Regions from separate parts of the Homo sapiens genome. Here regions 1 and 3 are each linked to region 2. The links come from fine-mapping of genetic effects on plasma protein levels. A gene starts in region 2. Each other region holds a variant in brackets. All regions are shown on one strand. Distances are between the middles of the regions. Region 1 overlaps SPON1 (spondin 1). Region 2 holds the start of SPON1 (spondin 1). Region 3 overlaps SPON1 (spondin 1).

The links. A credible set is the group of variants that fine-mapping cannot tell apart. PIP is the posterior inclusion probability: the model's chance that the variant is causal. The UK Biobank Pharma Proteomics Project read protein levels with antibody pairs (Olink). The fine-mapping took linkage between variants from a reference panel, not from the people measured, so its PIPs are less certain.
Region 1: its variant is the best candidate, but not a certain one, in a credible set for the plasma level of the SPON1 protein (UK Biobank, PIP 0.82).
Region 3: its variant is the best candidate, but not a certain one, in a credible set for the plasma level of the SPON1 protein (UK Biobank, PIP 0.50).

What each region holds. Positions count from the first base shown.
Region 1 is chr11:14,021,034-14,031,825 of GRCh38, reverse strand. The region is part of intron 2 of SPON1 (spondin 1); the gene reads right to left. Among named protein-coding and RNA genes, the nearest start is that of SPON1, 64 kb to the right of the region's middle. RefSeq lists an enhancer at 9,634-10,141. The variant G/A (reference allele first, on the strand shown) is at 4,893.
Region 2 is chr11:13,958,414-13,969,205 of GRCh38, reverse strand. It overlaps SPON1 (spondin 1), which reads right to left and starts at 6,483. Exons shown (of 16, transcript NM_006108.4): 1 at 6,064-6,483. The coding sequence starts at 6,301. It overlaps LOC124902637 (a long non-coding RNA gene), which reads right to left and starts at 6,049. Exons shown (of 2, transcript XR_007062602.1): 1 at 4,161-6,049; 2 at 1,337-2,165. RefSeq lists an enhancer at 2,680-3,198.
Region 3 is chr11:13,995,126-14,005,917 of GRCh38, reverse strand. All of the region lies in intron 2 of SPON1 (spondin 1), which reads right to left. Among named protein-coding and RNA genes, the nearest start is that of SPON1, 38 kb to the right of the region's middle. The variant A/G (reference allele first, on the strand shown) is at 5,826.

The DNA of each region.
Region 1 (10,792 bases), 63 kb before region 2:
TTTTTCAATCTGAAAGCCATGGAAGGAAAGACAGTTGCTTTTGTCTTTTATGAAAGGGCTTTCAATATAGATTTTTTAAAATTCAGATTTTGCCCTTATTGATTTAAAAAGTAAGTTTATCATAGAAACGTTAACCAGGACAGAAAAGTAAAGGAAAAAAAAAAATCCTCCACTGTTTGAATAATTTTGGTTTGTTTCCTTCTAGCCTTTTCTCCATGTATTCTTTAAAATTTGTTAATAGCGGTACTGATTTTGTTTATATAATGTGTCTTGTTTCTTTTTCCATTTGTCCTAGGAGCCTCAATATTTTTCCAGGTTTTTCTGAACTTAACAGAAACATAATTTGAATGGCTGCATTGACTGCGTTATTCAGTGTACTTTTTGTCAGTGGCCTCTCTTCTAAACTGTAAAGATTTAGGCTTAAATCCTGTCCCTTTTCCCTACAAATACCCCCATCTTCCAGCCTAACTTTCACAAAAGTTATAGCATCCTTTTTAAAAATATATAATTTCAACTTCAGGGTGTACATGTACAGGTTTGTTACGAATGATCCCATCACCCAGGTAGTGAGCACAGTACACAAAAGGTAGTCTTTCAGACCTTTCCCCATTAATCTCTTCCTGCTCCGGTAGCCCCTGGTGTCTATCATTTCCATCTTTATGTCCATATGAATCCAGTGTTTTGCTCCCACTTACAAGTGAGAACATGTGGTATTGGTTTTCTGTTCCTGAGTTAATTTGCTTCGGATGATGGCCTCCAGCTGCATCCATATTGCTGCAAAGGATAGATTTTATTATTTATAGCTATGTAGTATTCCATGGTATATATGTACCACATTTTCTTTATCCAGTTCACCACTGACAAACACCTAAGTTGATGCCATGTCGTTGCTATTGTGAATAGTACTGTAATGAACATATGAGTGCTTATGTCTTTTTTGTAGAACAATTTATTTTCCTTTGCATATATACCCAGTAATGGGATTGCTGGAACAAATCCTAGTTCTGTTTTTAGTTCTTGGAGAAATCTCCAAACTGCTTTCCACAGTGGACAAACTAACTTACATTCCCACCTACAGTGTACAAGTGTTCCCTTTTCTCCGCAGCCTTGCTAGCATCTGTTATTTTTTGTCTTTTTAACAACAGCCATTCTGACTGCTGTTAGGTGGTGCCTCGTTGTAGTTTTGATTTGCATGTCTCTGAACTAGCATCCCTTTTTGCATTAGCATCTCTTCAAACGGATTCTTACCTCCATCTTATTCATCTTTTAAAATCTCACTTGCTTTATTTTCTCTTCCCGGGAGTGTACCCTGTGCTTTCCAGACTTGAGAAGCACGTGGGATTGTGGGGGAGGTGACGTGGCCACGAGCACCATTGGCGGACCCTCTGGCACCGGGCATGTGGCATCCAATCCACAGAAGTTTAGTCCTGAGAAACACCAGATTGCATTTCTCCCCCAAAAGCAGATTAATCCTCCATGCTATGTGAGTTGTTTCACATATTAGGAGCACAGACAGCAGGCCAGGCTTGGGAGCAAGGCTGGGCCAAGATGCGTAGGCGCCCTGGGCAGGCTAATAACCTGGCCCCCTTTCAAAACGATATTCTCTAAATATTTGCCCAACATTCATTTGGAGGATAGGCTGAGTGCTGCGTGGGAGGAGGGCAGGCAGACTGCCAGCTCAGCACTGCTCACTCTATTAACCTGAGTAGTTCAACTGCTGCCCTAAACTTGCATACCTCACCCAGCAACTAAGAGGCCTGGAAGGTCACTGAGATACCAGCTCTTGTCACTTAAGTGCTCTTGGGGGTTTTCCCCCTACCAGGAGACAATACAAAGTCCTAGGAGAGTCCAGCAGCCTATTTATTACTGGTGTGACTCTGGCAAGTTCCTTAACTTTTCTGGACTGATTCTCCTTATCTGTAAAATGGGGACTGATAATAGCATCTACCTCAATGGGCCAGAAGTGTTTATATGAATTCATATACAAAGTTGTTAGAGAAGCTTCTGGCACAAAACCAGTGGAGACAGGAGGCAGCCAAGGGTCCCCAGCAAAACTCCATATTTAAACCTAAAACAGCCTGAAGGCTGAAAAACCTGACTACACTTCCTGGATGAAGCCACCCTTTCCTGACTGATTCTTTCTGAATAACGCCCACCTGAGCACTGGGAGAATGGGGTGGAGCCTCAGGAAGTTCAGTGGGGAGGAGCCTGGCCTCTCCCGTTGCTATGTGGTGACCTGGGATTCAACGTGTGAGGCGGGAAACCTGATAGGAGGACTCTCTCACTTTGCTGAGAGTTGCTTTTCCTTTTTCCTTTTCACCCAATAAATTCTGTTTTCCTCACCATTCTGTGTCCACAAGCCTAATCTTTTCCTGATCATGTGACAAGAGCCCGGTTTTGGCTGAACTAAGGAGAAAGTTTATCAACAAAACTATCAGTGTATATTATAATCACTGTGCATTGATAAATATTATTATTATCATTCTCGTGTCCCGCTTGCTCTCAACAATTCTGGTAAAGACCATTTTCTCCACTGTATTACATTTCCAGCAGCATTTTAGTTCTCTTTACAGACTGGTATCCAGGGTACCAGCCCAGCTGGCCTGCACCTAAATCCAGTTTGGCTTGGGAGCCTCAAGTACAATGGACAGGCTCCAGTAGAACTGGGCACACACATGCTTGTGTGTGTGTGTGTGTGTGTAGGGGTCACTGCCTGAATCATGGTGTAGTCCTCAGTTAGAATAGAAAGCCTCATCTTCCAGGTGAGAATTGGAAGATGCTGAGAAAAGTAGAGACAGACTTCGGGAAAGTGGTAATTTTTCAGGGGTGGGTAATCCTCAATAAGAAAAGAGCTATCTCCTCTAGAAAAACCAGGAAGAGGAGGAGGAATTATCCTTCAAACCAGGTGAAATGTGCTCCTGGAATCCTGAGAGGTAGCATGGGGTAGTGGGGAGAGAAGATGTGGACTTTGGAGCCAGCAGACATAGGTCTGATTTCTGCCTTAGCTACTGAATGACCTTGAGTAAAGTCACCCAACTCTCTGTGAGTACACATCCTTATGTGGAAAATGGCTACACATGATGAAAGATGTCCTGTGTACAGAGCCCAGAAGGGGACCTGGAGCTGCTAGATGCTTGATGACCATGACTTTGAGTCATTGAAGTGACAATCAGAGAATGGGCCCTGGTGGCATCTTGAGTGCCTAGAGCCTAGTAGGTGATTGATGCATATACACTGAATAAGTGGGAAGATTCTCACTGGCTATATGTAAATGCCAGTGAATCTCAGAATATCTAGTGTTTAATAAGTAAATACCCTATATTCTTTTTTAAAATTTTATTTTTATTTATTTTTGAGACAGGGTCTCACTCTGTGCCCCGGCTAGAGTGAAGTGACAAGATCATAGCTCACTATAACCTTGAACTCCTGGACTCAAGCAATCCTATCTAGTAGCTAGGACCACAGGCACACGCCACCATGCCGAGGTAATATTTTTTATTTTTTATATTTTGTAGAGATGAGGTCTATGTTGCCCAGGTTGGTCTCAAACTCCTGGGTTCAAGCAATCCTCCTGCCTCAGCCTCCCAAAGAGCTGAGATTACAGGTGTGAGCCACCAAACCTGGCACAGACTCTACATTCTTGCTAACACTTTGTATCCATTATTTCAAACAATAATCCAGTGAAGTGGGAATTATCCCCATTTTACAGATTCAGAAACTGGGACTAGCAAGTAGGGGGTCTGTATTAATATCCTCCATGACCCCAAAGCTAATAACCGCTGGATTTAACACACTGTACCCTTATTTTTCACATGAGGACCTGCTGTCAGTTTTGACTCAATACTAGAAAATCACTGATAAACAGGTTTTAAAAAATAGAACCATGTAATTGGGGGATTTTATTCAATGTAGTCTAATGCCTAGGAAATAAATCAGCCTTTTAAGTTTTATATAGCAGTACAGTTGAAATGTTTAATAATTATTGCCAGAGAACAGTATAATGCAGTACTAAAAATGAGTAATTGAAAAGCCCATCAAGGCAGATGAGGCATCTTCTTACTGAATTGCTCTTGAATACTTTACATAATTACTTCATTCAGATTTATGATCAGCTCAGCAAAACATACATCTCTCTATCCTGCTCCGCCTGAGTAGTTTGGGAAGCCTTTTTATATTGTGCTTACACCTTCAGGGATGGACAAATGAATGTCTCTTATACACTAATGGGGTTTGCAATGGTTTGATTTCATTTAGCAAAGGAAAAAGGAGCAAAAACTCAGTTTGCTGAGGTCCTTCTGTGTCCCAGTCACTGTGCTGGTGGTTTATTTGTATTAACTATGTCAGCTCATTTAAAGTCCCTGACAGTCCTGAGAAGGGATGGTGTTTTCCATCTCACAGAAGCAACTGAAGCTCAGAGGAATGTTGGAACTTGATCAGATTATTGAAGCTCATGGTAAACTCATACTAGGCAGTTTGGATCCAAACCTAGTGACCTTTCCACGACATCACCAACTTCCAGAAAGACCCCGTGTGCCCCAAGAGGGCTTGGAATTTTGGAAAGAGGCATCTAGTGAGGTCAGTCGAAGAAAACTGTTCCTAGCCAGATTTTGTTTGCAGCTCTGGCTCTTTAAACATCTGAGTTGTGGATGCTCCCCACCCCTGACCCCATTCCTTCATTTCTTACAACGCCAGTGCCTCCCGGCAGAGAGAAGTCCAGACGAGTCTCCTCAAGGGATGCAGTTTCCCATGGATTCAGTCTCCCCACTCAGCCCAGATCATCCCAGGCTGCAGGCTTTATCAGAGGCACAAGCTTATCATCTTGCCTCTCCCAGAGACTGCAGAGTGGGAGTTCTTGGCAAATTCAGTTTACTGGTAAGTGTGGACAAATGGCT[G/A]CCTGGATGAGATGACAGCCTTTGTTTCTGGTCTCACTTACATGTCAAAAGAGCCAAAAATGGGAAAAATGGGGAGAGAGGAGGAGACAAGTTGGGGTAACCTCACAGGCAGGAGAAATAATATAATCCCTTTAAAACATTTTACAATGCATTGAGAAGATTATACATAGAAGAGAAGGACTCTCCAACTCTCCTCCACCCTCGCTTAAGACAATGACATTTCCAGCAGACTGATTTTTCTTTCTCAACCTCCCTGTTATCCTTTCCTTAACCCTGAAGCTTGTTGTATTCTCTGCGTAAGTCAGCAGACATCGGCATGGGATCAAAACTGTTTGTGCACCCCGTTTCCCCCACCCCCTCGCCTTGAGAATAAACTCAGGCTCTGCTGAGGGTTATTTCAGAAGAGACTTAAACAAGTCACTGAATATCTTCCTTCTTTAGGACGTAAAAGCATGTCAGATTTCCCTCTTGTTTTAGAGTGACAATGGCAGACATCATGCACAGATGTATATCTTACTGAATATGGTACACATCCATGAACTTCCTTACACCCTTGGGAAATACCAAACTTTGATCTAATTATATTTTGACAATAAGAATCTCTCATCAAGTTATAGATTTATGGTAACACTCAAGGACTATTTGTCAAACACATCCAATGTGGTTATCAGCTGGTGGGTACTGAGCACTTACTTGCAAAACAAATCAAATATCTGAAGAGAATGCATTTTGTCTTTGTGCACCTGAAGGTGGAGGGTTGGGGGGAATACACTGATCAAATCATGCAGCAAAGAGAGCATTTCCCTCTGCTGTAGGGAGGCAATTGAGCTGGAAGCTGTGGGAAGGGAGCCGGAGGCTGGCTCCTGCCTTGCAGAGAAGCAGTGGACATGAGATGGATGACAGGAGGAAGCTCTTTCAGATAATTATTAGGAGCTGGAGAATCAGCTGTTGTGCTGTCAGTATGGTGTATTGTAGGATAAAGAACATAACAGGAAGGGAGTGGGGCTGGAAAGAACAAAGAGAGAGAAACAGGCAAAGGAACAATGGCATAGTTCTTGTCTCTGACCACGGACTATGGTCCACCTCTGTTACCCCTTTTACCCTCAGAGCAACCTCTGGGGGCTCTGGCCTTCCCAGACACTGCTCCCACTTCTTGTTCCTGGACTAGTCCTACTCATGGTCTCACCTGATGAGTCACTTCCTCTGGGAAGCATTTCCCAGCCCCAAGAACCCAGGTCTGATAGGCTGCACCCTCCACCTGCCAAACCACCACCCGCATGACCCTTTATCTTTGCCTCTCCAGCACTTCTTCACCCCACCCCTATAAGAACCACCTGGAAGGTTTGTGAAAATAGTGATGCCTAGCCCCACCCCAGAGCAGTGGAATCGACAGCTCCAGGCATGGGGCCAGGGCAGCAGTGACCTCCTAAGGGCTTCAGGTGATTTTGATGGACATTTAAGATGACAACCATCTTGCCTCTAGTTCGTCATATCTGAAAGCAGGGGCTGGTTCTACCTTGCTTACTTTTGGGTCACCAGCACCTAGCATTGTGCCTGGCACATCATATATACTTGATCAATATTTGTAGAATGAATAAATGAATTAATTAAAATTAAAGAGGTATTGCTACTCCCTTTTTAGAGAAGAGGAAATCGATTCATGAAGGCAAACTAGGTGGACTGCCATGGTAGTCTCAGAAGAGTCTGTAAGAGGAGGAATGAGAATGTAAGCTCCATGGGGGCAGGAGCCTTGTCTGTTTTATTTGACTGTGTTCCCGGTGCCTAGACTTGGGTCTGACATGGAACAGGAGCTTGGTACATGTTTGCTGAATAAATGACTGCACCCCCAGTCTCTTACTTTAAAACTCAATCTCTTCCCACTCTAGTTTGCTACCAGCCCTGCCTCTGCCATTATCTCTGTGGCTTTGCCCAAGTCACTTTTTCTCTCTAGAGATCAGTTTCCTAAAATGAGGAATTCAGATGATATGGCCTCCAGATTCTTTTCAGTTCTAATCATAGCAGACTGCCCTGATATACCTATATTGTCACTTGAAGGATGCAACTCCAGCTGTTATGCCAGCACCTTCCACACACACCAATGTCCTCACATTTCTCAGTGATGCGGAAGTAGGGCAGGGAAGCCCTGGGTAGAGAAGAGTGGGGTCCCTGGCAGGGGCTCCACCCTTGGGCCTGTGCCCATGGACCTAAGAGAGAACAGGCACTCTTGTTTTTGTGCCCAAATGTTGCATTTTCCAAGACCACTCTGGCCAGCCATGCCCCCCATCCTGTGCCCATATAAACCCGAGACCTTAGCAGGCACACACACAAGCGGCTAGACATCGGAGGAGCAGAGGACCACACCAGCAGACACTGGCAGACCAGCGATGGTGGAACAATGCGGACTCTGAGGGGAGTTCAGCCAGGGGCCATCAGAGGACAGTCTGCCACTGGGTAGCCTGACTCCAGGGGAAGACCACCTTCCCACTCCATCCCTCTTCTGGCCCCCCATCCATCTTGCTGAGCGCCACCTCCACCACTCAACAGAACCTTGCACCAAGCCCACCTGTGATCAAATTTTTCTGGTACACTGGGCAAGAACTCAGGATACAGAAAGCCCTCTGCTCTTGCGATAAGGCAGAGGGTCTACTTGAGCTGATTAACACAAGCCACCTGCAGATGGCAAAGCAGAAAGAGCACACTGTAACACACACCCACTGGGGCTTCAAGAGTCGTAAGCACTCACCCCAAGATACTGCCGTGGGGTTGAAGCCCAAAAGTGCTCCCCATGACCTCTGCACCTGTCCATCTGCATTCTCCCTTTAGGGGTTTGAGTACTAGGGCACTGAAGCAGCCAAGCCATACCACTGTCACATGCCTTGTGAGGGAGATAAGGTCCCCAAATTGCTCCTTCCAGTCTTTTTTTTTTTTCTTTGAGATGGAGTCTCGCACTGTCACCGAGGCTGGAGTGCAGTGGCCCAATCTTGGCTCACTCCAACCTCGGCCTCCCGGGTTCAAGTGATTCTCCTGCCTCAGCCTCCCAAGTAGCTGGGATTACAGGCGCCCACCACTACGCCCAGCTAATTTTTGTTTTCTTAGTAGAGATGGGGTTTCACCATGTTGGTCAGGCCGGTCTTGCACTCTTGACCTCATGATCTGCCCACCTCAGCCTCCCAAAGTGCTGGGATTACAGGCGTGAGCCACCGCACCTGGCCCAGTCTTTTTTCCATACTGCTCTTCCCTCCTTTCCTGCTTCCTGCTTCTATTATTTCTTCCTTTCGCAAGTGTTCCCAGTTGGCAGGCTGTGATCTGCAAAAGCTGACCTCCATCTCCCAGTCAGCCCACCTCCAAAGAACAAATCCATAGCTGAGAAAATGTGGTTATTAATTTATCATCTCCCTATATCCAATTCCAGAGAAAAACATCACTTTGTTGATATAGTTGTAGCACGAAGAGAGGGAACTTGTGTTGTTAATTATCTACTACACACTTGGCACTTCATTTATGTTATTTCATTTAAGCCTCACCTTTGACTGCCTGTCAGTTTTACCTTCACAGTATTTCTCTCCAGCACCCTAAAGCACCCAAACTCAATAAACCACTGCAACAACCTTCTAACTTATCTCTCTGCTTCCATACTTAGCCCCTACAATCCAATCTTCCCACAGAAGCCAGAGCGCACATTTAAAATAATAAATCATGTCACTTCCCTGTTTAAAGACTTCCAGTGGCTTTCCATTACACTTAAAATCCAAACTTTATAATGCCAGCTTGCAATTCCCCACCTAATCTGGTCCCTGCCAACTTCTCAGGCATCATCTCCTGCCACCATTTGTCTCACCCACCGAGCTCCAGTTCCTTAAACAAGCAGAGCTCCCTCCACCTCAGAGCCTTGGATGGTTCCCTTTGGCTGTCGTCATCCTACATGATCCCGCCCACAAACCTTAAGGAGTTAGGAAGGAAAAGAGGGAGGAACAAATTTAGATATGCCTGAGGCTTCCGTGGCAGCTGGTTTTCCAGTTGAACCTACATGAACCTGCTTTTAACCCTACTCCTCACCTTTGTCTTCTCAGCGTGCAGGTGGTTGCAGCAACTCAAAGCGTTCTTTGGATAAAGTCGAATGTATGGGCAAAATGTGGGTAAAGAACCCAAAACATTGCCTTCTCTTCCCTATGAAAAGGTTTCAGTAATTCATTGCTTGATTTTTTAGATGAACAGGGAAGAAAAGCTTAACTTTGAGGGAAAGAAGCTAAAGTTTATTGAGCTATGCAGCAGCCCTTTTAACATGATTTGGTTGAATCAGCTGAACAATCCACTGAAACAGGTTTTATAATCCCCATTTTATAGAGGAGGAAACAGATTCAGAGGATTTCAGCAATTTCCTGAGGACCACACGACTGTACTAATGAACAGAGCCAATATTCCACCCGGTCATATTTAGATCCCAAATCTCAAGCTCTCTTCTGCCATATCATCTTGCTTTGCTAAGTGTATCCTTTCTTCCCAGCAAAACAACCTCAGAGTAAACATCAATGTATGAGTAAGTAATGACTAAGATATAAAAGTGAGAACAGATTATTTGCCAGAAGCACATTCGAATCCTCCATTTACCTGTGCTAATTGTAATATGTTAACAACAGGCTGCTCTTAAAGATTCATTAAACTGAATCCCCTGAGGACCTGTACTTGGGAGCTCAGCTGGCTGATATTCTGAATTCCTAAATGCACTTAAAAATAACCAAATGTCTTTTCTCCCAAAGCATTTAATAGTATAGAATAGTAACCAATTCATAACGACCCTCTGCTCAATTATTGCTTTTTTTGGCTTTTTCTTTTATTCTTCCAAACGGTAAGGTCAAACTTCAACAGCATCACCTGCTGAGTCCCTCACTGGGCTCTCTTTCTGGATGTGTGTTGCCAGGAGAACAATTCTGCTTTCAACAATAAAAACAACAATCAATGCTTGCACAAAAGACTTAAGGACAATGGGAAATGTGGGTGAGTTAATTACATCCCTGGTCCCTTTGTTCTTTACAAATAAAGAGCAAGAGCGATGGGTGATCAGTGAACTTTAGAGACGCAAGCCATTGAATTGTGCTTAAGAGAACTGGGTTTCTTAGGAGTCAAATGAATGGACATCCTCTGAAAACAACTTCGTGTGTATCAGAAATCTACAATGTTCAGTCCTTGGAAGAAGGAGCCAGCACTAGAGCAGGAATTGGGAAACACAGGGCAGGGTCGTCTCAGGTCTTGTAGGAACTTGGAGAACTCCTCCTTCCAGGGCCTTGGGTTTTCTGAAGTTGAAATGACTCAATGGCACCAAAATGCCCTGCAATTCTAAAATGTGATTTGGCTCTCAGATTCAGCCTGTTTGGGAAGTGCTGAACAAAACCAGGGACTGGATCCTGGTGCTTTGGGGCTTGTTTTCCCTCTTCTTCCTCAGGTTTTGCAACCTGAGCTGTTTCAGAAGCTGAGGCATTCATACTGAAGACCAATATACAACCCTCAGCCCTGACTTCTGCTTCATTTCTGCAGCCTTGTCCCTGAGGTCTACCCGGGGACTTGTTGGTGCAGAACTACTGCATCTTTGAACTCTTGGCCTATGGAATTTCCTTCTAAACACAACTTACTATTTTTTCATACACTCATTCAACACATATTTATCATCTGCTTGTAATATGCCAGATATTATGATATACTGTGGTGAACAAAACAGAAATGGTAGCTTCCCTCCTGTGGCTTATAATTGGCCAGGTGAATAAGACATTAAATGCCTTGTTTTAAAGGTAAAAAATACAAATAGGTATAAAGTAGAAAGTGAATTGTGCCCAGGATTTTACCTCCCAGATAAAACCACCTGTTGGATCATTATATCGTGATATTCTGTAACCTCATTTCTTTCT
Region 2 (10,792 bases):
GTTTTGCCATATTGTCCAGGCTGATTTTGAACTCCTGGGGTTAAGCAATCCACCTGTCTCAGCCTCCCAAAGTGTTGAGGTTACAGGTGTGAGCCACTGCATCTGGCTTCCTCTGCTGATTCTTAGCAGGAACATCAGTTTATATGTTGTCAAGTTGACCCACCTAGCTGACCTTTCACTGAGAAAGTAAGATATATTGTGTTTTTACATGACTATGCATGAAAATATGTGACAGAGACCGTTAATATGATCCTTAGAAATTTACTTTGTTTCATCTTTTTGAAAAATAAATTCTTCAAGTTTTAGCTGGGCATGTGGCTACCCAGCTAAATGCTATATTTCCCAGCCTTCCTTGCAGCTAGGTATGACCACATGACTGAATTTTTGCCAACGGAGTGTGTTTAGAAGTGCTGGGTGCAGTTTCTGGGTCACATTATTAAAAGAAAACTGAAGTCCTCTACTTCCTCTCCCCCCAGTCCACTGCATGCTGACTGAATACAGGTGTGCAGAGGTTCTCCTCGGCTGTAACGGTGCTGAGGAGAACAGCAACTTAAAACAGTGCTGTTTAGTAGAAATAAGCTCAAGCTGGGTGAAATTAATTTTGTTACCAGGTATCCATTAACATAAGTGAAAATAGGCAAAATTAGTTTTAACTAGTGTATTTTACTTTATACAATTATAATTTTAATATGTAATAATACACAATTAATGAGTTTACTCTTTGTATACTAAATTTTCAACAGTCATTGTGTATTTTATACTTACAGCACATCTCCATTCAGAATAGCCACATTTCAAGTACTTCATAGCTACACACGGCTAAGTAGCCACCAACTACACAGCAGAGTGCAAGAAGATGTCAGGGAACAAGGTAGAAGGAGCCTGGTTCCTGGATGGCCTTATGGAGCAAAGCCTCCCATCATGCTGGATCTCCCATTTACCTCTTGTTTAAAACACTGTGTTTTGGATTCTGTTAGTAACATGAGCTTAGCCTGTACTATGACTAATATAACATGGTAAGAGTCCCCCCACCTCACAACAGAAATTGATATTGACCTATATATATGTGACAGTCTGTATAACAAGCAAATGGACAGTGTGAGAGTGAAAAGCTCCTGATATACCAGCCCATAGTGGTAAACGTATCAGTGATTATAGCTTCTTGATGCAACTGAAAGAGTCAGCTGTAATGAAACAGCTTATCTGTGTATGGGGGAGTACTCAAGTTTTAAACCTTGAAAAATTCCATTTTGATATGCTTTTTTGTATGTTTTTATTTCTTTCATTTCCTAAAACTCAGAGCAATAAACAATCTCCACAACCATTAAGCATTAGCTATGTTTGCATTTTCTAATTTTTATTATCAGTTTGAACTAAATACTTAAGTAATGGTTAGAAATAGTTACATAACAAAAAAGCAGGGAATGGTGCAAAAAAGGGAAGAGAGGTAGGAGGGGTGGCTTAATTATAATATCATCAGCAGCACTTAAGTTTTTAAAAACTCCACCATCCAGGAAATAGTTTATTTAAAAGACCTCATCTTGTGTAAATTTCTTAGAGCCTAAATATGTCCTTTCCAAACATATAATTTTACAGGCATGGTCATATAACATCTGTATGTAAAAACAAAACAACAGTCAAATCTGTTTTTTCTTTTTTTTTTTTTCTTTCTGGGTTTTTTTTTTCCTATCCAATTTGTTTTTGTTTCCCCACAAACAAAAGGAATTGGCCAAAGGCTGACAAGGTTCTTCATGTTTCTAAATTAATCCTCTAGTTTATGGGGAAATGCAACACTGAAGCCAATAAGAGAAAACAGCAAATGTGAATAAGGATTTATCACTTTATATTACTTTGTAGTAATATAAAGTAATTCTCCTGAGAGATGTCAGTTACTATCTTGATTTGTTGTTCTGTTTTCCTTGAAGGAAGGCTCACCATCCAGAAGGCTGAGGGTAGCTGAGTGAATTTCATTCTATTCCCAACTAATTTCATTGAGTCAGCACATAAGACTGGTTAAGAGCACAGATTTAGGAGTCAGACAGACCTGAGACTGTATCCTGATTCTGCTGATTATTAGCTGTGTGACCATGGATAAGGAATAAACTTCTCTGAGGTTTAGTCTTCTCATCCATAAAACAGTAACGATCAGAAACTTCCTCAAAGTACTGTAAGGAATAAGTGAGATGAGTCGGAAGAACTTAACACAATATCTTATCCAGGGCTTTGCTGCTAAGTATTTTTCTATTTCCAAAATAATCATCTCATAACATATTTTTTTAGCAACCACTGTGTGACAATTTCTTTTGACATGAATTATTTCTAATTCTCACAGGAATGCTGGGAAAAAATCAAAACACCCTCATTTTACAGATGGAGAAATTGGCTCAGAGAGGTGAAGTGGCTTCCTGAGATCACACAGTGAATATGTGACCAAGGAGGACCTGAAACCAACCCACCCAACATCAAAGCCTGTGCGCTTTCCACCAGGCTGAGGTGTCCACCCCTGTGGTCAGTGTGTGTCTCAGTGTGGGACAAAGGAAAAACCATGCAGCTTTGGAGGTCTCCAAACCTCCCAGTTTAGGATAAACCCCTCAATTATGCTTGAAGTTGGACCAGCTTTTGAAACCTCTACTGGACATTCTTTTCCCATCAAGTTCCTTGAAATGTCTCTTTAAAATACATCTAGGAAAAGCCACTCTCATTAGCCAGAGTCTGACTTTATTTTCCTAATAAACAGACCTCCAGTAAGACAAAAGAGCCTCTTTTATTTTCAATCAATTCTTGAATATTTCAGTGGATTTTCTTCTGTTTGGCTTGAAATTGTGATCTGGGAAAGGCTGGTCCTGCGAATTGTCCTCCTGTATAAGGGAAGCCCCTTGAGGATCCTCAACTTGTTATTTTTAATCACTGTAATCTCCTTTTCAAAGGAGGCCCTGGCCAGAAACAGAGCAGGCCTTTCAGAGCTTTCTAAAGCACAATTATTGCCGTTGGAGGGAGGGGGGACTGTGGGAAGAGGGAGGGAGAGTAGAGAGAAGTGGTGGGAAAGAAAAGGAAATCAATATAATACTAACAACTTGGAAAAGACAAAATAATGATCTCAACTGGATTCAGGTTTTGGGGAAGAAACTCCATGTTTCAGTCTTTTTTAATAGTGACCATTTTATTCCGGTCTAGAGTACCTAAAGACTGTACTTAGACAGCAGGCACAAAGAACAGAAGCTGCTTGGGGATGAACTGGAATACTGTGGACAAAGATTTGAGGCAGGAAAACAAGTCATTGATTCCAAGGATTGTGAGGAATCCTAATTCATGAAAAAATTAAAAAGCAAATAGAACACCAGGGGAATGCCAGCTTCACAGCCTTAAGTCAGGACAATGAGCAGAATGTGTTTGAGTTACTTTTAACATAATTATTCTAAGAAAGAAGGAGCCAACAGAAAATGTCACAAACTAGGCCAGTACCTTTTCTTTCGGACTTTGAGTGGCAGAATCAGGTTTGCTAATTGCAGGATATTTACTTGGAAAACCTCAGCATGGTTCCTGCAAGATCTCTTCCAAGGTCTTTTAGCCATAAGAAGGGAGAAAAGATGATTGCCCAATCTATAGCCTGAGTTGGGGTGTCAAAGTCCAGATGGCTGTTTAGGCAGGAGTAGCCTGTAGGGTGAAAGTCCAGGACACTCCCTATCCAGTCCCAGTTCCCCACCTGCTGGCCCTGGACGTTTAGGTAGTTCTGAAACCTCTTTGGCCCCGTGAATACCAGCTGTATCTCCTTCCCAGTGCTAGGGCCACCAGCTGCCAATGCTCAACTAAAACACGGAGGATTAGTGTGAAAAGAGACGCTGGGTACACTTGGCCTGAACCTCAGACTAGTCTAAGTCACTGAAAAAATCTTCCTGGGCTTGCATTAGCAACAGTCTTAGGCAAGGCTCCTGATATGAAAAAATACCTCATTCATTCATTCAATTAATTCATGAGGACCCAAATAACCACTGGTAGATGAATGGGACTGGAGGAGAGCTGAGGAAACCTGCTTTCAAACGCACAACACTCTTCAAAAACAAAAATCTGATCAAGAACCTACCTCCATTAGTAAACCAATAAAGGCCTCACATTCAACTGTTAGGCTTATTAGGAATCTCTTTTAGCTCAGGCACACTCACCTTTGTAAACTCATTTACTCCCTACCACCAAGAGAGGGTGGATAAACAGCTTTTTTTTTTTTCCAGCTAGGAAATAGGTGCAGAGAAATTAAATGACTTGCACAAGGTCACACAGCGAGTAAACCCAAGTCTGTTGGACTCCAGAGCCACTTCTTTCTCTGCTACGTGGAGCGGGGACAGTTTCCCCTGTGAACTCAGGTCCTCAGTTTTGGGGAGGGCCGAATAGGCCACTGAAGTCATACCCGCTTCCCTGCGGTCCACAGGGAGGATCGGCCGCCTCCCGGCTGCACCGAGTGGCAGTCGCCGCCCGTCGGCGCGGCTCGCTCTAGCCGCGGTGCCAAGCCGCGCGCTCCCTCCCGGGCTGGGCGGGGTGTTCTCCGCCCAGAATCTTTCTTCGTGGAGTACCCAGGATCCCGCGGAGCTGCGCGCCGGGGTCAGACTGTTCCTCGCAAAGTGCTCAGCACGCCAAGGTGCCAAGGGCACCAAGGAGCCGGCTTTGGGTAGCTCCGGGTGGAGAAAGTCGGGGACACAAACCCGGGAAAGGGGGAAAAGCGCTCCAAGAAGGGTGGCCCCTGGCTTTGGTCTCCGGCGTGACCCTGGCGCCCGCTGACGCTGCCCCAGACTTTCTCCTGTGTTGCTCCCACCGCTTCCGTCCAAGGCTCTCTGGGGAACTGGGAAGGCGAGGAGGAAAGTACAGCAGCTGGGAGCCCATTTGCCCCACCAGGTGCCCCAGTGACCCGCTCATCCCTGCTTAGCACCAGAGCTGACTTATGAAGGGGCGAGGGTGAGAGGACACGCTCCCTGGCGGGAGCTAAGGTGAGGCCAGACAGGCTCGCTTCCCTTCCTGGTTACCTGTCCCCCACCCGGAGAGCGGCTGCTGCTGCACGGGGAAACGATGTCTGGGGAGATGACCCTGCTGAGGAGCGAGGTGGCGGGCGTGGGGACAGAGTCAGGCGTCTTCAGATCGGTGCTGGTCGAACTGCCTGTCCCGCCTAGGAGGCTCTCACCTGCTTGGACACCTCCTCCCTGAGCTCCCGAAACCCCACTCTCAGCCGAGCGGCGTAGGCGCGACATCCCTGGGACGTGGAGACTCCGAGCTGCCGGAGCCAAGGTTCCCCGGCCTCCAGGGAGCAGGCCTCGGGCATCGGGGCTTCTCTTTCCATCTTCATCCAATTCCCCTTGCAGCTCGGAGCTTACCCCAAGCTCTTTGAGGACCCTGTCCCCACTGGGAACCTGTTCTGGAAACCCAAGATACTCTATCTCGTCTGGGACCACGAGAGAATAATTTGGGGTTCTTTCCAAGGACCCTTTCGAGGAGCTTTAGGCTGTCCCTGCCCCTCCTTCCCGCACCCCGGGACCGGTTAGGGAGAAGCCAAAGTCCCTTCTCCTGAAGGGACCTATCCAGGGAAGCCGGAGTGGCTGTCCCGCCCAGGGCCAGTCTTTGAGAATCGGGTACCCTCTCCTTCAGGGACTGAGCGGGGAAAGCTGGAGTGGCTGCCTTGCCCGGGACCCGACCAAGAGAAGCCTGGGTCCCCTCCAGACCGATTTGGAGAAAGGCAGTTTTACTTCCCTCCTGCAGACGGCCGGGGGAGAAGCGAGCCTCCCTTGCAGTCAGGCCGGCGTGACGTGTGGCTCAGTTACATCCTCCGCCTGGGAACCGCGCGTCGGAAACGCGGGGTGCCTCTCCTGGCTGCGGCCCCCGCGACGGCCCGGGACGCTGGATTATGATCCGCGCCGAGCTCGCGACTGCAAGGGCCGAGGGCAGCCAGGACAGAAGGGCCCTTGCCGGGCTGCACCCGCGCCACGCGCCCGGAGACCGCGCGCCCTCCTCCGGCACCGCGAGGTCGGCGCCCTCCGGGGACCGGGTCCCGCTCTCCTAATGCCACGCCGGGCGGCCACTTACCGCGGTAGCTGGTTCCCGGCTTGTAGAAGTCGGGGTCGCCCTCCACGCGGAGGCTGAACTCGGTGTAGCCCTCGCGCCGCGTGCCCTGGGCGCGCAGGATACGGCTGCAGTAGCCCTCTGACTTGGGCACTTTGTCCAGGGTCTCGTCGGAGAAGGCCAGCGCCGCGGCCAGGGGCAGCGCCAGGGCCAGCAGTGCCGGAGTCCGGCTCAGCTTCAGGGGCGCCGGGGACAGCCTCATCTTCGCGGCCCCCAACTTTGTGCCGCGGCCGCAGGCCTTCGCCACGCGACTCCTGCCCGAAGTGGTCCCGACGAAGGCGCGACCTGGCGGAGGCGCGGCGGAGAGAGGGAGCTCGGAGCTGGCGTCCGCGACTCGGAGACCGTGCCCGCCTCGGCTTGGCGGCCGCGGAGCTGCGCTGAGCTGAGCTGAGCTGAGCCAAGCGAACGAGAGCAGCGCGAGGAGGGGAGGGCCGCGGCGAAGGAGCGGGAGGAGGGAGGGCTGATTTTGCCCAGATCCCCCAGCGCAGCGCTGTTTTGTTTCCTCCGAACTGGCGATTAGCGGCGCGGCCGTGTTTATTTTGCGACGTTGGATTCCCAGGGTCTGACGAAGAAACCGTGGCATACCGGACCCTGTGGGCTCTGTCCCATCGCCTAGGAGGCTGCTGCTCCAACCCCCAGCTACACTCCGGACCCTCTGGAGGACGGCGCTCAGAGGAGGGAAAGCCTGAGAAATAACTTTTGTTGCACACCTGCTCTGTGCCTAGCAATATGCTTGGCGGCTTACTTACTGTATCGACTCGCCTTCATGTTCCCTACTCCCAATAAAGATTACATTACTTTCGCTCACTTTATAGATGAGCAAACTGTGACTTGCGACCAGTTACAGCAGGGTTAGATGCGGCGACTCCGGGCCCATTGCTCTTCCCAAGGCCATAGTGGAACATGTCAGACTGGAGGCTGAGAAAGGAGAAACGACTTAGCTACAGCGCTTAGGGCCCACGATACTTTTGGAGATCTATGAAAATGTTTTCTGTAAAAATCAGAAGAAAAAATTTATGTCAAACAAAATGTTTTACTATATAATGTTAATATATTTGTATTTATACCTCCACAGTCATAAAATATGCTTGACTTGGAGGAAAGAGCCAGCAAAGGCAAAAGTGCCTAAGGCTCAGGAAGGTCCTCCTACAGCCCAGGAAAGGAGTTTCCAAAGATTCAATGAAGAGCCTGTGTTTTCTTGGCTTACATTTTAGTTCAGATTCTCACTCCCCAGGGACAGATGTTCAGAGAGGTGCTGAGCCTGAGGGCCTGAAGGGAAAAGACCTGGGGCAAGAATCTCTCCCAGTGTCTCTCTGGGAAGAGACCCGAATCAAACCTCAGTCCTGCCACTCACCCATTGTGAAGCTTGGGCTAGTTATCGCACTCTCCAAGCTTGTTTCCTGCTCTGGAGAACAAGGAAGTGGGGGTGGGTGCCAGTACATCCTTCTTAGAGGTAGTGGGGTGATATGCTAGAAGTAAATGATATGACCCATATAAAACACTCTAGTTGGTCTCTAGTGGCGCCTGCTCCCTCACCCGCTTGGGGATACCATAAGCCCCCTGCCTCTCAGTGCACACAAACATCCCTCCCCAGGTGCCCTCAGAAGCTTTGGTTTCCTCGTCTTCTCTTTGCCCAGGGCCTTCGACACACCTCAAGTGCCTACAATTAGCAAGCAATCTCCTTTGCTTTCCAGGTCAGGGTTTTCTCTTTCATAATGCTACAAACAGGCCCAGGGCGCTAGGTGCATGGGAGATCTCCATTCCTCCCTGCCTGCCCACTTACTCCTTAGTGCTTGTGCTGGAATTCCCACTGCCACTATTAACTGGACGCCTTCTCTCAGAGGTCACCTGAAAGTAACCCCTTGCTGAAGCCAATTATGCTCTTCTCTCATCCCTAGCCCTTCTTGACCCTAGCAGCACCTGATCCAGCTGATCGGCCCTCCTTTTTGAGGTGAGGCTCAGATCCATGTCTGAGTGCTGAGGGAATTGTCTGCATCTTCACTCGACTGGCTCAGAGCTCATGCTGCACTCCAAGTTGCACGGTCCCATTCATCCAGCAAACTTTCATTAAGTGTAGATTTGGAGCTAGACTCTGTGCTGACCGGTAGGTAGAAGACGGAACAAAAATTCATCCATCCATCCATCCATGCATCCTTCTATCCATCCATTCATTCATGACAAAGACCCTCCACGTGCTCAGTGCTTGGATACAAAACACAGATATGTTACTTGCCTTTGAGGATTTTACAGGCCTGTGGCAAAGGCAAATATTAAATACATAATTATATGAATCTTTTAAAATTATAATTGTGATGTATGCTACAAACTAAAATAAGTGGTTCTTGAAAGTGTACCTGATCTTATCTCAGAGGGCAGGAAACTACAGAAATGAATAAATTGTGACCCCTGTCTTCACAAAGCTTATTTTATGTCTGAAAGCTCAAATCTGTGCTCTTGAACCTCTATTCATCTACAAAAGGTTCAAATCTAAGTTGGAGATGGGTGGGCATGAAGTAGGCAGGAATGCAATATTTAACTTTTTATTGGATATTGACAGGAAAACTATGGGAAGTAGGCAGTCCCAATTCACCTCCGCACTCCCATTGTTCAGATTAGGAGCCTATGAAATTACCTGCTGAGGTAATGTTCCATGGCTATTAAGGGAAAGAGCCAGGATTTAAAACAGGCATCCCCAACACCAAATGAGGTACTTTCCAGTACACAGTGTTCGCCCTATCATCTGGGCTATGACGGCAGGCTCTAACCAGCTCACCAAGCTCCAATCCCACTACATGAGCTAGGTTTTCCTAAACCAGCTTGGCTGTCACTCAGACCTCTGCTGTCTTCTCCACTCATCCGATCCATCACCACATCAAGTTTCACGCTCTTCTCCACCACTACCCCTGTCTGTGTTGACATCCTCTCTCATCTTCCTAACTGGGTTGCCCTTGTCTACTTGTGCTCTCCTTCCATCTGTCTTCTGCACTGAAGCCCAAGTGATCTTTTTAAAAATGCAGATTTGAATGTCAATCCTGAGGTTAACATTTTTTCTTGGTGGTTTTTCAGGGCTCTCAGAATAAAGACAGAATCTTCAGCCAGGCCTCCAAGGCTCTGCTTGATCTGCTTCTCCAGCCATGCAGCTCTTCTCTCATGGGCTTTGCCTGTGCTGTTCTCTCTGCCTGGAATCCTATCATGCTCTTTGGTCTCTCCTAGCCACCACTCTCCATTGGCCAACTCCTATGTACTCTTCAGATCTCAGTGCAAAACTGCCTCCCCAAAGAAGGCCTTTCTGATTTCCTAGAATAGATCCAGCCCCCAAAACTCTGCTGAAGCTCATGAGTACCTTTTCTTTTAATCTCCTCCTCCTCCTCCTCCTTCTTCTTCCTTCTTCCTCCTCCCTCTCCTCCTCCTCCTTCTTCTTTCTCCTTTCTCCTTTCCTCTTTCTTCTTTCTTCTTGAGGCAGGGTCTTCCTATGTTGCTCAGGTTGGTCTCAAACTCTTGGGCTCAAGCAATCTTCCTGCCTCAGCCTCCCAAAGTGTTGGGACTACAGGCATGAGCCACCACACCTGGCTTCTTTTAATATTAAGATTTATAATGACCCATTGATTTATAAGTTTGATGTTTAAAATTTTACATTTGTTCAGTATTTGTCTCCATTCTAAATTCTAAGCTCCAGAAGGGTAGGGGATGTCTATGGGGCTTACCACTGTATTTTCCGTGCACATCGTAGTGCCCGGCCCCTGGTAGGGGTTCCATAAATATTTTTTCTCTGAATAAAAACTTTTTAACAAGCCTACCCTCAGTGCCTTCTGACTCTGCCCAAATTTTAAGACTTGGCCTCTAAGGCCATCCACAATCTGGTCTCACTGTGTCCATCTGGTCATGCCTGGTCATAGATCCCAATCTGAGCTCCCAGCACCACCCAGCTGGGCTCCCCGTGTCCTCCACTTCAGTATTGCCTCAGCACCTTTGCTTACAGCTTTCTCATGGCCTGGAATGCCCTCCCTCCTCCTGCCTGATTAAATTTTCCTCCATAGAATGAGATCCTGCAGTCTCCCCTCCTGTGGACTTCAGTAGAACTGAGGAGGAGAAAAAGTTTCCCATTTTGACTACTGTGGTCCAGTGGATTGTCATGAACTATTTCATGTGTCTATTTCTCATCTCCTAGCAATGAATCCAGTTTACTTTCCCCTTAATTTCCTGTTCAGATGTTTTGTTCTTTTGTAAAATATACTGGACTTCAAGAAATCTCCTTCCAGTTTTTGTAGCCTAAGGCAGAGCTGATGTCAGTTGCTAGGGTGTTGCTAAGGAAAGTCATTTAGCCAGGGCAGATAATTAACTTTATCAGTGTGTGTGGGTAGGTCGCAGAAGAGAAGAGCTGGGGGCTCCAGTTCTCCAAGGCGAGAAAAGTCCTTTGATTCATAGGAGGTAAGATCTCCCTCTTTTTTCTCCCCGCTTTAAGAGAGAAGGGGGAAAAGGATTTTCTAGATTAGTGTTTTTCTGAGTATGGTCATTGAAACATGAGCATCAGATGTTTGCTTCAAAGGCAGATTCCGAAACCTCATCCCAGACCTACTAAATCTGTACTTTGAAGAAAAACTCATACTGAAGTTTAAGGAACCGTCGTCCTAGACCGTAATTCAGACTTGAAGTACATGGGTTCCAGGCTGGCTCTTCTGTTTTCACCATGTGA
Region 3 (10,792 bases), 37 kb before region 2:
GCAGGAAGAAACCGAGCCTTAGAGAGGTCATAGAGCAGAATTGTAGATTCAGGATTTGAACCCAGGTCTCTCAGGCTCTAGAGTTGAACTTTCAACAGTCTATAACATTCTATTGAATGACCCTAAGTCCAGAAGCCCTTTGTGCATAGCCTGAAGGCATTGAGATCAGAATTATGAATGTTATAATAATACTTAGCAACTTACTATGTGCCAAGGACTCTAATGATCATCTTTACAGCTTTGACATCTTTATTATTTGTTTTTCAGACAGAGAAACAAAGGTTAAAAGAGTTAAAGTTACACAGCAAGAGTAGAACAGGGGCTTACATTCCCTCTGTCTAATTTGAAAAGCCCCAGGCTTAATTTACCTTAATTTAGCCCAGGGTCTAGAACATCAAAGTGGGCCACAAATCTCAACGTGGAGCATGAATGGGAGTCATTATCACGCAGATGGTACTCAAAGCCATGGAACGGATGAGTCTAATTGTGCAGAGAAAGGACAGAAAAGGTTACAGGACAGAGTTTGGAGAGTGCATCATTTAGAGAAGCAGATCTCAATGGGGATGATCTTGTTCTCTAGGGGACATCAGAATCAGACAATATCTGGAAACATTTTTGGTTATCACAACTGGTGGGGCCAGGGGCCAGGGGTGCTGCCAACCATCCCAGAGGACACAGGGCAGCTGCCAACAACAAAGAATTATCTGGCTCAGAAATCATAAATCTCCTAGAAGAGAAAATAGCAGAAAACCTCCTCAACATTGGCCTTTGTAATAATTTTTTTGGATATCACACCAACAGTTCATGCTACAAAAATAAAATAAATAAATGGAACTACATGAAACTAAAAACCTTCTTCACAGCAAAGGAAACAAACAACAAAATGAAAAGGCATAGCCTGGGCAACACAGTGAGACTCCATCTCTAAAAAAATTTTTTTTAAATCATCCAGACATAGTGGCATGCACCTGTAGTCCCAACTACTCAGGAGACCCAGGCAGGAGGATCACTTGAGCCCAGGAGTTTGGGGCTGCAGTGAGCTATTATTATGCCACTGCACTCCAGCCTGGGTGACAGAGTGAGACCCTGTCTCACACAGAAAAAAGAAAGAAAGAAAAGGAAAACTACGAACTGAAAAAACAAACAAACAAAAAACTGCATTTCACATATCTGATAAGGAGTTAATATCTAAAATTTGTAAATAACTGTTAAAACTCAATAGCAGAAAAACAAAAAAACCCAACTAAAAAATGGGCAAATAACCTGAACAGACATTTTTTCCAAAGACAATATAAAAATGGCCAACAGGTATATGAAAAGGTGTTCAACATCATTAATCATCAGGGAAATGCAAATTAAAACCACTATAAGATATTATCTCACATCCATAAGGATAGCTATTATCAAAAAGACAAGAGATAGCAAATGTTGGTAAGGGTCTGGAGAAAAGGTAACCCTGTATGCTGTTGATGGAAACGTAGATTGGTATAGCCATGGTGGAAAATGGTATGGAGGTTCCTCAACTAAAAATAAACTATCATATGATACAGCAATCCGACTTCTGGGTATTTACCTAGAGGAGATAAACTCACTACCTCATAAAGACACCTGTGGACCCATGTTCATTGCAACATTATTAACAATAGCCAGGATATGGAAACGACCTAAATGTCCATGTTCATTTGGGAAAAGAAAATGTAGGAAATGTACAAATGGGGAAAGAACATGTACACGTGTGTGTGTGTGTATGTGTGTGTGTGTGTCTGTGTGTGTAATGGAATATTATTCAGCCTAGAACAGAAAGAGATCTTGCCATTCTCCACAACAAAGATGGACCTGGAAGACATTATGCTAAGTGAAGTAAGCCAGAAAGAGAAAGAAAAATATTGCATGATCTCTCTTATATGTGAAACATTTTTTTAAAAAAAGAGCTCAAATATGCAGAGATAGATAAGGGAGTGATTATCAAAGGGGGTAGAGAAGGAAAAAATAGGAAGATGTAAGTCAAAGGATACAAAATAACAGTTATATAGGATGAACAAGTCTAGAGATCTAATGTATAGCATGAGGATGAAAAATTGTATTACGGATTTTGGTTAAGTAGATTTTAGTTGCCCTTGTCACAAAAAAAGTAACTATGTGCAATGATGGATGTTAACCTACTTCACTGCAGTAACCATTTTACTATCTATATATATATCATTATGTATACTATCTATACATAACATTATGTTGTAAACCTCAAATATGGCCCAAATGCCAATAGTGCTTATGTAGGTCCCTTCAGCTCTCCCGCTTTCTTTCTGTGTCTTGATAGAAAATCACAGAGTGCCTTGACCACTCTGTGACCCAGCCAAATGTGGGTTATTCCCAGCAGGCTTAATCCCAAACTGGGGCCTTGAACATTCCCAGACACTGACAAAGGTATCTAGATTGTTGCCTAAAACACTGAAAGAAACTGGCCCCATCCCTGAGCCAAACTCCTTAAACCCTCATAAAAACTCCATACCCTGGACCCCTCACTGCATTTGTGCCTGGGCAGAACATCCCTTTTCTCTCGCTGTTCGGTGCAGGGATCACTGCAGCACTTCTGTAAGTAAGTTCCCCTAATAAATGTTTTGGACTGATCTCACTGGTGCTTAGTGCTCCTTTCTTTGGAATCCCAACCAGCCCCACTTCAGGATAGTGTGTTGCACTTTCTTGTGTGGGAACTCCCCTGCTGCCACTTTTTGGGGCAAAATACATAAAACCAGAAAGACATGAGAAGAGAATATTCTAGGAATCAGGGAGTGGTCAGCTCCCTCTGCGATACTGAGGAATGTGTGCAAGATGATGGAGTGTGCACGGACAACGCGGAGGCCATTGCAGAAACTGTCAAGACTCAAGAGCCATTTTGGTGGGGGTCGAGAAGTGAACAACAGCAGAGAAGTGGGTAAAACATGTGTAGGCACAACTCTCTTGAAGTGCTTGGCTGTCGAGGTGGGGCAGAGAAATGAGGTAGTGGTTGGAGGAGATGTGGGGTCCTAGGACTTTGGGGTTTTTTAAAAAAATTATAGGTAGATAGTAGAGGTACTATCTTCCTGGCCAACTTGAACCCCTGACCAGCTTTCTCAACAGTGCCCTGGTTCCCTGATTCTCTCTCCCCTTGGTGGATGCCTGTGCCCCCTATCTTCTACTGTGTTTGGGGTTTTCCAGTTCTGGGAAAACTGTACCATCTGTCTGCTTGGCTCCTGCCACCAGGCTCTTGGGAGTTGATGAAGAAAGTTACAAATCCAATCTCAAAGTCTCCTCTAGGAATATGTGTTTTCTAAACTGGGTCTCTGCTGCTACACGATCCTTCCATCCATCTCTCATGGACTCCCTACCACATTCCTCCTGCACTTGCTCCATCTCCCCAGTCTTCAGCCCTGTCCTTTCCCTCTGCAGATCAGCTTGCCTCTGTCTACTTGAAAAACATTTGTTGACTGTGTTTCAGGTCAGTCACTAATCAACATGCTTATGTGTTTCTTAAGGTGCTCTTTGGGGCACTTGTGTCAGATTCACATAAGATGCTTATAAAAGATGCAGGGTCCGCAGCCCCAGTTCCTCACCCCCTTAGGTGCACAGAATCAGATTCTCTGACTTGGGGCCCAGAGAGATGAATTACAAACAAGTATCCAGGAGATTCTGATGTTCATTACCAGTTGAAAACCATTGTTATAAATTATTTAATTTTCTCAGTAATTCTATAAGGAAGATATTACTATTAAAGTCAGAATTATATGGAGGGCATCCTGTGTAATCCTATCTACTCTCACTTTCCTTCTTGTTCATCAAATTGTTGTATATTTTTACCAGTTTTGCTTGTTTTCCCCATGTCAAGAAAGATGTCCTCCCTCCTGTGCCTGATCATGACTAAGTCCTGTTTAAACAGTTGCCTTTGATTCAACTCTTCTTCCCTCCTCTGATATGTTGATCAATTAATAATAGTAATTATGACTACCATTTATTGATCACTTAGTATGAACCAACTACTTACCATAATAGCCCTTTTATTATTTCATCTAATCTTCAAATATTTCTTCTATTCTTTTCTCTATTTGTCTGATATTCCCATTATACGTATGTTACATCTTTTGTAATTTTCCTGCAGTTCTTGGTTATTATGTTTGTTTGTCATTCTTTCTTCTCATTTTTGTCTTTGGTTTTCCCTAGAAACTCCTTCTTAAGTAGAGGTTATGCCTTGCAGCCCTCTCTGTTGTAATCCACTGTTGTTATACTGAGCCTTGTTGATGTAATGGTAACATATTGGGAAAGGGTAACGGTCTATCTTTTGATTAAATCTCAATATTTTATTGGGGCAGAATCTTTGTGTGTGGTCTTCAGAAAAGTTTCTTAGCCTTTTTTTACTTCCTTTATATGAGACAGGAAGGCTAGACAGGGCTGGACCTGGCTAATTGTTCTTTCTTCGGATCAGATAAGACTCTGGTAAAGTAGTTTCCTTGAGGGCAGACCTTGTTAGGGAGAAGCATCTGGCCAGATTTCAAAAAGGTTCTTTTTCCCTTCCCATGCCTCAAGCTGGAGGAGATTTCTCTGATTTTCACCGTGAGAACCTGATGAGGGCTCCTGGGGTTAAAATTCACAAAAGTGTGGGAGTCCCTTCAGGATTGGGCTCCCAGGAGTTTAACTCTCCAAGCAGTCTACACTCAGCCTGTAGCTAGTCATCAGTTAGCCTTTAAGTCCTCCTACCATTTACTGTTTCCAGCAGCTCCTGAGAATCTGTGATTTTCAGTATTCACTTGTCTCTCCATTTCTTGGGGGGTGGAGGAGGAAGGAGGTGGCGAAGGTTTGCCTCATGACCTCAGTTCTCTGATGGAAGTAATTAGAGTTGTTGATTTTCAGTTTTTCAGCTTTTTTTCATATGAGGACAGGAGTGATGATTTCTAAGCTCTTCACATGTCACAGTAGACATTAGAAGTTCTTATACAACTCTTCGACTTAGTATTACTCCAATTTTGACAGGCAAGGAAACAAACTCAGCAAGTTTAAATTAAGTGGCCAAGCTTATATAGTTAATGAGGGGTGGAGTGGCTATGTTGTCACTAAAATGGTAAAATTGGGATTCAGGTAAAACCCAATGCTAGGGCCCAGAAAGGCAGCCACATAAGTACAAGCTGTTTTGGAGGGGCCAGGGGGTGTGTGGCTGTGCATGTGATGCACATGTATCTTCATATTGGTCCATGTGAAGAAGTCCTGAGGGTGTCAGCTGACTTTGGGGGGAAAATGGGCTGAGGGTGGGGGCCAGAATCCTTATCAATACCATAAGTCAGTGTCATTTCATGATGAAAAAACAACTTGTTTCTTAGGCTGATTTCAAAAAAGCACACCCAATAAATTGGCAGCTATATATTAAACACCTATTATGTGCCAGGCCCTATTATAGTGCTGAACAGATGCAGTGCTGAACAAAGCAATACCCTTGTGGAGTTCACATTGCAGTAGGGGTAATAGCTAATAAGCAATCAAGCATATAACATGTCTGGGGCTGATAAGTCAGATGAATAAAATAAAGGAAGGCAAATGGGGTTTAGAATGATGAGGGTATTGCTTTATAAAATATGGTCAGAAATGGACTCTGATAAAAGTGACATTTGAGCAGAAACCGGAAAGAAGTGAGGGAGGGAGTTTTGTGGCTACCTGAGAGCATCCCAGGTAGAGGGATGAGGAAATAGAGTTTTTGAGGCATATATCCATGCCTAGGGAGACAGACCTGTTCACTCTGCAGATGACATAATGCTGTGAAGACAGTGATCAACCATGGCGGATAAAAGATGTCTAACATAGAA[A/G]AACCTTGGAATGCTAGAGAGATGAACCATGTTGAATAATTAATTTGTCAGGGCAAAAATCTAAGGTATTGAACTTTATTCCAAAGAGGTAATTTTATGAGAACAGGATTTGCAAGATCTGTTTAGTAACCACCTGGTAGAAGGATGGGAACTTACTTCCTCCAGCCAAACTTACTTCCTCCAGCCAACACCCAGTCCTCCTGAACACAAAGGACTATAGGACATAAGGTACCAGCTGGGGGCCAACTGGAGAGAAAGTTTGTGTCCAAGGGAAAAACCAAGACAAAGTAACTTGGCAAAGGTTATATACTCTCTAAAAGCAAGCTCTGAGTCAGATTCCTACTCAAACTCCTACTTGGTCAGGTGTGATAGAAAGTGATATAGCAGGCCAGGCGCGGTGGCTCACACCTGTAATCCCAGCACTTTGGGAGGCTGAGGTGGGCAGATCACCTGAGGTCAGGAGTTCAAAACCAGCTTGGCCAACATGGCGAAACCCCCATCTCTACTAAATATACAAAAGTTAGCCAGGTGTGATGGCGGGTGCCTGTAGTCCCAGCTACTCAGGAGGCTGAGGCAGGAGAATTGCTTGAACACGGGAGGTGGAAGTTGCAGTGAGCTGAGATCATGCCACTGCATCCAGCAAGATGCCATCTCAAAAAAAAAAAAAAGAAAGAAAATGATACAGCAATGTGTATCAAGAGCCTAAAAACTCTTTGATCCAGAAACATGGGACTGTATCTCATGGAAATGATCTAAAATATAGAAGTATAATGTCCAAAGGGGTAGGGATTTTTGTCTGTTATGTCAGCTATATCCTCAGAGCCTAGAACATGCCTTACACACGACAGTGTCATTTATATACTCATAAATGAAATAAGAGGGTTTTCTTTATACGAATGTATACTGCTAAATTATTTATAGTATTAAAAATTCTCTAAATATCCTACAATAGGATACTGTTTCAGTAAACTATGACCCATTTACTCTTTAGATTTTACCTGTTTTAAAAAACAAACACAACGGCTTTAAGTGTTTGCAAAACCAGAATTAAGAGCTATCCCATAAAGTAGTTAGATCTGGAATGGAGGCTCATCACTCTCATTTTAAAGATGAGAGGATTGCAAGGCCACAGGAACTTATTGGCTTTTTAAAAAACTACTTAATAGATACATGAAAAAGTTCTTTTTTGCATAAAAGTTATGTATTGTCTATTAAAGAAGTCTATCATGTATTTGAAAATGATTTCTAGACCTTTAGAAAATAGATGTGGAAACAATGCTAGTTCCATGCAAGAAAGTAGGAGACCAATTAACGTTTGCAAACAAGTGGGTAAGGCCAGCAATTCCAGCAGCAGATATCCATCAATTTGGAAAGCACTTATCACCTGGCCAGTGTGCCAGGCCTTGGTGAGGCCAGGGGAGTACAGGGGTGGCCACAGGAATACAGAGACAGACATGGCCCAGTTGTCTGCCTCTTTGCAGAATCTTGTAGGGGAATGGGAATTTAACTCATCAGGGTAACACAGTGAGCGAAGAACTAGAACAAAGGGATGTGCCAAGTGTTTGAGATCTCAGAGAGGAGGCAGGGTGCACAGATTCCAAATGGGATGAAAGGAAAATGTGAATGTCAGGAAAGACAGAAGAGATGGCATTTCAAAGGCCTGGAAGAGACCTGGTGGATCTGTGAAGCTGTAAACCTGGTATGACCCCTGGAATAACCCAGAAAGGATTTTAGGGGTTTAGCAGTAAATTTCTGTCTTGTCTCTCCCATACATCTCTCCCCAGAGCTGTAAGAGATGCAGAATAGAGAAAATGACACAGGCCTTTGGTGGCTTAGTCTTTGTTCACTGCCACTTACTGGCTCTGTGCCATCGATCAATGCTCTGATTCCCTCAGTGTTAACTTTCCTGTGAATGGGAATAATAATAAGAGTGCCTACTTCATGGGTGTGTATGTGGGCAGGCAGTGGAATCTGAGTTGAAGAGGGGTTAATACATTTATTTATGTGACTAATATTTACTCAGCTTTGATTATGTGTTCAGCATGGCACCCAGCACTGTGTGTGTTGTTGTGAAAGAAAGATGTCTCTGCTCTCATGGAACTTCCAGCCAAGAGGAAGAAAGTTAAAGTATACGAAGCAACTAGAATAGTATCTAGTGTGGTTTCCGCTATCCATTCATACCTCTGGTGCGGAGCCTTTTGCCAAGGTATAATTTAAATTCCATTTTTGGTGAAGCTGCTATATGGAAGTAGTTCATAAAACCAGCAATTGAGAGCCCAGCCAACCACCCACATTGAACAGATTTTGTTTGCGCATCATGTATCCATAGCATAAATTTTTCATTTTATTTTACAGCGATCCCAATCCTATTACAATAAAGATAGAATGAACTAGAGAAGACTGTCTCTCTCCTCACCTGTGGAGTTGGAAAGATAGCTAGTAGTTACACCTTTGACAAGATTCAGATGTGCTCCTTAGTGGTCCACAAATGCCCAAATCTACAGAGGAATGGAGTTTATGATTCACTGTAAACAGAAATGTGGAAAATGCACCCTAGGCTGCTGGCTCAGAAGTAGGAGGCATTGATTGAGGGTCCCTTATGTCCAGGCACTGTGTTGGGCATTTTACATACATTATTTTATTTTGATCATTTTTATTTTGTAGATGAAGGGACTAAGTAAGTTTCAGATAAATTCAGAGACTTCTTGACTTAGCTAGTAGGGCAGAATTTGACTCCTAGTCCAATGATCTAATGATTCCAAAACCCAAAGTCTTTCCACATACTCGCTGTATATTTTAAATAGCAAAGCTAAGCTAGATGCATGGTCCTTTCTGAGTAGTTAGAGCAGCCTGAAAATAGGAATACTTTCTACTGTGATGCTAACCTGTGTGCCCACCACTGACACTGTCAAAACCCAAACGGCTGCCTCCAGAAATAGAGCTCATATATACATATACATGTGTGCATACATACATGTGAGTATGTACAGAGAGAGAAACTTTACTTTGACCCTATAATTTCATTTATCATAAGCAAATACAGATGCATAAAACTTTGCTTTTATCATAAGCAAATACAGGTGCAAAGATTTATGTGTTACGGTGTTCACTGCAGTGTTTTATATAAAAGTAAAGAAAAGAAAATTAGAACCACCTATCTTGCCAATAATAGAGGAATCTTCGAATAAATTATAATTCAACAGTATGATGGAGTATTACAAAGCCATTAAAAATCATGTGGAACATTTAATTTCATTGAAATATGTTCACAATATAATGTTCCCATAAAAATAAAACAGGATATAAAACCCTATATAGAGAATGGTTCCAATATTCTGTTCAAAAATTATATATATAGGTGTGTGTGTATATATATATATACACACATAGGTGTGTTTTCTATATAATATATAACCTGGAAGGAAATATACCCAAATGTTAATGATTATCTCTAGATTATAAAATGACATATTTTTATTTCTTTTTTATCTTTCTCTGTATTTATCCTTTTCTGTATTTTATAACACAAAACACAAGTGTGCTCTGTTGAGAGGAGTGATGCTTAAGTCTTAATAATACCTCTGGTTCCCAGACTCAGGCTTTCTTGCTGGGAAGGAAAATGATTTTTCATCTTTTCTGGCAGCAGGCACTAGAGACCAGGGCTGCAGAAGTGTGAGGACCCAATGTCCATTCCAGGCACTCACAGTGCACATTGCTTCTTGTGCTTCTTACAAATGACTTTTCACACGGCAATTTTAAGCAAGAAAACTAAGTGTTAAGCAAGAGGTGTTGACATCGCTTTTAAAATGTGTTGTTTGTGCATTATAGCTCTGCAGAGGCATTTTACACCAAGTGAGCTCCTCAAGGGAAGGGGAAGGGACAGAATGTCATTTATCCCCTGGTTCATTTCTTATTAAAAAAAAAAAACTTTTACTAGGCCCTTGTGAGGCTCTAGGTGCTTGTTAAAGAAGATATAGTAAAACATTAAAATATGGCAAATTTTAAAATAGAGGTGTGAGGCAAAAATAGAGTGGTCTTCACACACACTCTTCACTCCTTGTCCAGTTGAAATTTCAACGACTCTAAGAGATAGCTCAAAGGTTATTGTCTCTGTAAATGTCCTTTCTGTGCTCCCAAATCAGCACTCACTACCCACTTTCTGCAAATGATTGTTTTCTTATTTGCACAGATGCAGCAATTTTAGCATCTAGCAGGCTGCAATATGGTTCTTTCTAACAGGTCTCTTGACTCCATGTCACATATAGAAAATGGTAATATTTCCCTAGGGTAAACAGAGGAGGCCACCCTAATATCTAGGGAAATACACATCTGGGTTCTCCTTCAACCTATCTGTGATCCACCAGTGTACATAAAATACTGAACTGGGAAGTTCTTCTGTAGACTTTGACCTCCTAATACCAGGGGCCATGATATGGTTTGGCTCTGTGTCCCTACCCAAATCTCATCTCAAATTTTAATCCCCATGTGTAGGGGAGGGACCTGGTGGGAGGTGATTGGATCATGGGGGCGGTTTTCTCCATGCTGTTCTCGTGATAAGTGAGTCAGGTCTCACGAGAGCTGATGGTTTTAAAGTGTGGCACTTTGTTGTCTTGCTCTCTCTCTCCAGCCACCTTATGAAGAAGGTGACTGCTCCCCCTTTGCCTTCTACCATGATTGTAAGTTTCCTGAGGCCTCCCCAGCTATGCAGAACTGTGAGTCAATTAAACCTCTTTGTTTATAAACTACCCAGTCTCAGGTAGTATCTTTATAGCAGTGTGAAAACAGACTAACATACCATGTCTTATTTATTCATCTCCATATCACAGAGCCTAGTATGTTGCATTTTGCATAGCTGGTCATTAGTGCATTCATTAATTCATGTCAGCAAATACTTACTATATTTACTGAGTGTCCACTATGTAACACTCACAGTGCTAGTGGTTAGAAATACAACAGTGAATTAAATA